Homo sapiens: one gene and its partner. The protein of the gene in region 2 purifies or fractionates together with the protein of the main gene of each other region. This does not show direct contact. Each region holds a gene or a part of one and is shown on either strand. Other genes may lie near its edges.

The links. The genes of interacting proteins can lie anywhere in the genome.
Region 1: the proteins of POC5 (region 2) and PDHA1 purify together in Homo sapiens (co-immunoprecipitation; one large-scale study listed by IntAct). This does not show direct contact.

What each region holds. Positions count from the first base shown.
Region 1 is NC_000023.11:19,346,927-19,350,426, reverse strand, and holds part of PDHA1 (pyruvate dehydrogenase E1 component subunit alpha, somatic form, mitochondrial isoform 1 precursor), read right to left. Parts: intron 1,116-3,500; coding exon 1,056-1,115; intron 491-1,055; coding exon 317-490; intron 1-316. UniProt on the Homo sapiens protein: The pyruvate dehydrogenase complex catalyzes the overall conversion of pyruvate to acetyl-CoA and CO(2), and thereby links the glycolytic pathway to the tricarboxylic cycle.
Region 2 is NC_000005.10:75,707,438-75,710,937, forward strand, and holds part of POC5 (centrosomal protein POC5), read right to left. Parts: intron 439-3,500; coding exon 300-438; intron 1-299. UniProt on the Homo sapiens protein: Essential for the assembly of the distal half of centrioles, required for centriole elongation. Acts as a negative regulator of centriole elongation.

The DNA.
Region 1 (3,500 bases), on a different chromosome or scaffold from region 2:
GGGTGTGTTGGTGTGCACCTGTGGTCCCACATACTCGGGAGGCTGAGGTGGGAGGATTGCTTGAGCCCAGTGGACAGAGGCTGCAGTGAGCCAAGATCACACTGTACTCTAACCAGAGGCTGCAGTGAGCCAAGATCACCACTGTACTCTAACCTGGGCGACAGAGAGAGACTGTCTCAAAAAAATAAATAAATAAAAGAAAATTACATTACCAGCCTCAAACTCTTCTGATACATATGGCAGGGTAAAGCCCAATAAGTACAAGCCATACTTCAGTACCTAAATAACACAGTTCCACCACAAACCTACCACTCACCTGACCATCACACAAGTGACAGAAACCACGAATAATTTTCTGTTTATACAGCTGATCTGCTTTCAACTCCATTCGGCGTACAGTCTGCATCATCCTGTAGTATTTGAGCCCATCCTCCCTGGTGAGCACTGTTGTGACAGGAGGGCCTTCTTCCAGCCGGTGAAGGTCACATTTCTGAAATGGAATAAGGTAGTTATTATCCTCCACATACTACATTGCAAACACTGTTGACCACTCTAAGATCTAACTCCATTGCAAATAATATTGAACTTGAAAAACTGCAAAGGAGCACATCAGTAATGCTTCATATCGCCTCTGTTCCTTAAATCCATAAACCTCACTGTGCAATGAGATGGGGCTTGGGGGAAGGAAATCTTTCTAAGATGATTTTCACTGAAAGCCCCTAGAAGCCAACTGAGTTATAGGTTGAAAGAACCTTCAAAGAAACAACTAAGACTCTTCTTATTCAAATATTTCACTGAATTACATTCCAAACTTTTGAATAAGCTTTTATTTTTATTTTCATTTTCTAGCTCCTCCCCCTTCCCCCCACAGAACAACAGCAAGCTGCTAATAATAAATTCTAGTTTTCGTGAAGCTTCTCTGAACTTCTGATCCTGGAACATTTAGAAGAAAATGATGACTAAGCATGAACATCAAAATGTTCTATTCTAAAGGTAAAACTGTATATCAGAGTGTACCTGTGAAAAAATTATTAACAAAGTAAAACACCTCTTACCTTAATTTCAAATGTAGCATCATTTGCAAAATTACGGGATGCTACCAGCACTCTGCTTGCCTTAAAAGACAAAAATATACAAACAAATCAGTACTTTTTAATTGTCAGCTATTTTGGAAAGTATAATAATCAGTTATCAGAATGAAGTTATGGAAATTTAATAAGCCCCAACATATTCATAGGCTTCTCTTCCACCCTGTGCACTGTGTTTGCATCTTCCTTGGCCTCCAAAATGAATCCATGCTTTGGCCAATGAAACAGGATTATCCCGCATCTGAAGGCAAGCAGCGCAAAGAGGGGCAAAAAACAAACCCATCCTTTGTTTTCAAAGAAATTATAGTGAGAATATAATGAAATTAGTGGCTAAAGAGACTAGATCATCTGTGAGCTGTGTCTGTTTATGCCATTCTTTTGTTTGTTTGTTTTGAGACGGAGTTTTGCTTTTATCACCCAGGCTGGAGTGCAGTGGTGCGATCTCGGCTCACTGCAACCTCCGCTTCCCGGGTTCAAGTGATTTCTCCTGTCTCAGTCTCCCGAGTAGCTGGGATTACAGGTGCCCACCACCACGCCCGGCTAATTTTTATATTTTTAGTAGAGATGGGGTTTCACCATGTTGGCCAGGCTGGTCTCCAACTCCTGACCTCAGGTGATCCACCTGCCTTGGCCTCCCAAAGTACTGGGATTGCAGGCATGAGCCACTGCGTCTGGCCTTTTCATGCCATTCTTAGTCATAACCAGATACTGTTCATTTTGAGCAAGCCAAAATTATACTTCAAATAAAACTATGATTTAATCTCCACTCTAGGCAAACTTGACTCTTCTATCAAATTGGATCTGTAAGAAAAAATATTTTAAATTGATTGAAGTATGAGATAAATACTTTAGGGAGACAAGACAAAAGAAAAGATACTTAGCACTCTCTGACTTAAACACAATGGGCTTGAGCCAGCTGTTTTATAATTTATAATTTGAACAGCCTAAATCTTGGACAGGCTCCTCCTGAAGCCCCAGTAGAAATGTTCTCTGAAACACTGTTCTCTTGATGTTTGGGTGGCTGTCACTGTTTGGAGGTAAAAAGCTTGGAGGCGGGGGGTGAGAAATGATTCCTTTCCAGTTTTACAACTGAGCAAACCTGCTCACAGCAAAAGTATTCTATGTAATGGCTAAGGTTTAGGTTAGACCACAAAATTTATCCAGTAGTATTATCATACTATTTTAGCTCCCTTCTGCCACATTCTCACACACTGACGTGTAAACCAACATGATTTCTCCATAAAAAGCACATCTGATGTGTTCATACCTTACCTAATCCAGCACTGGACTGATCTTGGTGAGAAGAGTTAAGACTGATCTGCCAAGTATACCCTGGAGTGTACAAGCCAATAGGCAGAAAGCTAATTACGTATATCTTCACCCCTCAATAGACCATTATTGGACAAAGCCAACAAACACAGACAATGACAGTGCTGGAGGAAAACAACTGAAATACTAGGAATCAGTGTTTCAGTTAACTTACAGGCAGAGACAGTCCACTAATGTATCTCAGAAAAAGTGAAGGAAATTTAGGAATTTGGGAAGAAGTAAAGCTGAGAGAAGGTGAAACAGCAAATCAATGGTTATATTTAGCAATCAAACAGATGTGTTATTCTTGGCAGTTAATAAATATTTTGTGGGGCCAGAAATTTATTGTATTGTGAAATAAATTTCCAAATACAACTACAGAAACTGCAGTTTTTGGAAGGCAGGAGTCCAAACCAGCCAGGCGACAGTAACAGAGAAAAGGTAACTTCTTTCTCAATCCTAGAGTTGAAACAATGAGGCAGGATAATGCTATACAATAAAGAGCAAGAAGGGGCCCAGTGCTGTGGCATGCGCCTGTAATCTTGCGCCTGCAAAGATTAGGACTGCCAGAAAGCTACTTAGATACTTTCTCCCATGGCTTCATTACTGTGTATCTCAAAAATAAGAACCACTGATATGAGTGAAAGGAACAAAGTTAAAGAAGCTAAAAGTCCTATCAGAAGTGTGTGTGTATCATTTCTGAGTGAGAGCTTGTTGAAAAGATAAGTTTACCATTCATTTTCTCTGGAGAGCCATAAAAAGATTCTCTGTTAAATGGGATTCCTCTCTGACAGAGACCACGAACAACCCACTCAAATTTTAAAAAATAAAAACTAGGCCGGGCATGATGGCTCACACCTATAATCCCCAGCACTTTGGGAGGCCAGGGTGGGAGGACCACTTGAAGCCAGGAGTTCAAAGCCAGCCTGGGCAACATGAGACTCTCATCTCTACAAAAATAAATATTAAAAAATTAGTCAGGTATGGTGGCACACACCTGAGGCTACAGTGAGCTATGACTGTGCCACTGCATTCCAGCCTAAAAAAAAAAATTAATTAAAAAAAAGTAAAACTTTAACTTCCTAAATACATAGGAACCATTCA
Region 2 (3,500 bases):
TTGGAACAAGTACTGAGATACAACATACCAAAAAGCCATGCAGTTGCCATAGCATTGCTTCAACTTTATTATTCTTCATAAAAGTAAGAGTCAAATGAAGTTCAAAGAAAAATCAAGCTGTCACACGAGAGTCAGGAATAATATATTAAAATGTAAAAAGCTCCCCTAGATGATACTAATACACATAAATGGTTGAGAAGAATCACTGATCTGGACAGGCATTTTCACAATCCTGTCAGTATCATTAATAAACTCAGTAATATTTTAAATTAAGAGATATCTTGAAAAATATATATAACCTTGACTATGAAGAATATCATGAATTGTAGAAATTCTGACATCTGGCACCAATTCTCCCTTAGGATGAGATGACTGTGAAGCACAGGGTTCAATATTTGGAGTCACTATAGCATAATGAAGCAGTTCTTCATATTCTTCCTAAGAGAGGCCAATAATCAATAATGTAGTGTAACAGTTACAATGTTATAATATATTCAACTGAATTTGTTTTAAAGAAATTTAATTACCATAATAGAGTCCCATGCTTATTATATTACAAAGTTTTACCACTTATTCCAAGCTTGAGTTCCTCGAGTGCTTCTTGTGTGATTTTTATATTTATGATTAACAGTTTGAAGAGGGCTGGGTGCAGTGACTCATGCCTGTAAACTCAGCACTTTGAGAGGCTGAGGCAGGAGGATGGCTTGAAGCCTGAGCAACAAAGTGAGACCTCATCTCTACAATAAATTTTTTACAAAAATTTGCTAGGTGTGGTGGTGTGTGCCTGTAGTTGTAGCTACTCAGGAGGCTGAGGCAGGAGGACCACTTAAGCCTAGGAACTGGAAGCTGCAGTAAGACAAGATGGCACCACTGCACCCCAGCCTGGGTGACAGAGCAAGATCCTGTCTCTGGGGAAACAACAACAAAGTATGAAGAGGTGATAAGGTTCTGTGAGTGACTCAACACTGAATCAAAAATTTTCTATCACTTAATTTTATATGTCAGATTGGTTTAATTGAAGATGAGACATGCTATTAAAAAGATACCATTTTTGGAACTGAAAAAAAATTATGTAACCTAAACAAAATATAGAAGCAAACTGGATACTTAAGTTTATAAAACTGCAATGGCCTTCTATTACCCCCCAATTTCAAATGTACATTTATCAAGGCAGCTTAACTGTTTTTATTAACTGATTGCATTTGAATTTACAAAATAAATCTATACTACTGTAGTTTTGTTTTCATCTGCTTTTTTATATCGGAATTTTAAGTAAAATTGTTTTTTAAAAAAGCTTATGCTTTTATATATTTGAAAACTGCTAGCTTTTATGGCAATTACATGTACAAGAGTGACCTGGTTTGCGCTTCAACCTTGATTTCTTGATTTACAATTTTTTTCTTCTTTTTTTTTGAGATGGAGTCTTGCTCTGTAGCCCAGGCTGGAGTGCAGTGGCATGGTCTTGGCTCACCGCAACCTCTGCCTCCCAGGTTCAAGCGATTCTCCTGCCTCAGCCTCCTGAGTATCTGGAATTACAGGTTTGTACCACCACGCCCACCTAATTTTTGTACTTTTAGTAGAGATGGGGTTTCACCATGTTGGTCAGGCTGGTCTTGAACTCCTGACCTCTTGATCCACAGCCCTGGACCCCCAAAGTGCTAGGATTACAGGCGTGAGCCACTGCACCCGGCCTGATTCACATATTTAACATAGATACTTACACGCAGTAAACATTAGGTATAGCAAATACTGATTTTTATATATTTTAAGGCTAACGACAGAAGAGGAAGAGAGAGATATTTCAAAGAGAAAATCTTTAGAAAATTCAACCAGAATCTCCTTCATATTGCTATAATCAACCATTTTTGTTAGTGATGTCACCTTCATGAGAATAAACATCTGTCTGAGTTTTAAACTTACATTTCCTAGTAGCAAATAAAAATCAGTATTTTACATAATGGTTATCACTGAGACAGAAGGCTCTTATTAGGAAACAAATCATTTAGGATATCACAATACAACTTTTTTTATATTATAAAACTTAAAAAAATTATTAAAAAATTATAGAACATTTCACAAATTTGCATGTCCTCCTTGCACAGGGTCCATGCTAATTTTCTGTGTGGCTCCAGTTTTAGTATATGTGCTGCTGAAGCGAGCACCAACATTTAATTTTTACATTGACAAAAGTAACTATGATTATTTAAATAGATTTAAATATCCTTAGGTTAAAAAAAATACACTTCCCAAAGCATATTGGTTTTCTAATTATCAAAAAGAAATTCCCAAAGAGCTTAATAAATTGGGGCCATGCACAAGATATTTACTAGTTCCTATAAACCTGAATGTGTGTGTTGGTCCTAATAAACTAATACATAAAATTTCAAGTGCATAGAGACTGTAACTAATCCAGCAGCATCCATTTCTTTTTAATTTCTTTAACTTAATAAAGCCCCAGGGTTTGATTTGGGCAAATGGCCACCCAGCTACATTTCCCAGCCTCCTCTGCAGCTAGGTGTGGCCAAGAGACCTGGTCTATGGGATTCAACTGGAAATGATGTGTACAACTTTAGGTGAAGTCCTTAAAAACGAAGCTGCTTCCTGCTGGTCCCCTCTTCCCATGGGCTAGTGGTAGTACACTGTCAGTGCACCAGTACCTGACAATGCAAACACGGTCAACAGCTCATGGTACAGCAAAAAGAGAGAAGGGATTGGGTCCTCAGATGATCTCAGGACTACGTATCAGCTCAGAATTTATGAGAGACAGAATGAAACTGTAAGGAACCCACTTAAACCACCCTTACTTGGTTTCTGTTAAAGCACTATTATACTTCCCAAACACCCAAAATATACTTTTGATTTTGGCTAAGAATATATAAAAGTGTGGCTGTTATGGAGTTACGGAGTCTGAATGTTTGTGTCCCCTCAAAATTCATATGCTGAAGCCCTAACACCCAGTGTGGCTGTATTTGGAGATGAGGCCTTCAAGAAAGTAATTAAGGTTAAATAAGGTCATTGGTTGGGGCCCTGAGAGCATTAATGTACTCATCAGAAGAGACACCAGGAACCTTGTGCATGCTCTCCTCCCACCTGCACATACTGTACTGAGGAAAGGCCATGCAAAGATACAGCAAGAAGGCACCTGTCTGCAATCCACAAAGAGAGCCCTCACCAGAAACTGACCCTTTTGGGCTGTGATCTGGGACTTCTAGCCTCCAGAACTGTGAGAAGATAAATGTCTGTTGTTTAAGCCTATGAATTTATGGTACTTTGTTATGGTAGCCTGAGCAGATTAATATGATGGTGATCTTATATTGTGAGGTTCATAAACTTTTTATAGTGTTCCTGCTGTGGTGTCAGTTGCAACTAGATTTAGCCAAGTCAGCTCTACTCAGAGTTAGCCTATCACCACCTCTAGCATGTAGGAACGGAGGGAGAAGTGGAAGTCAGTGGCTTTCACTTGTGGCTTCCCTAGTCTGACTTCTGCTCTGGATAAGAGA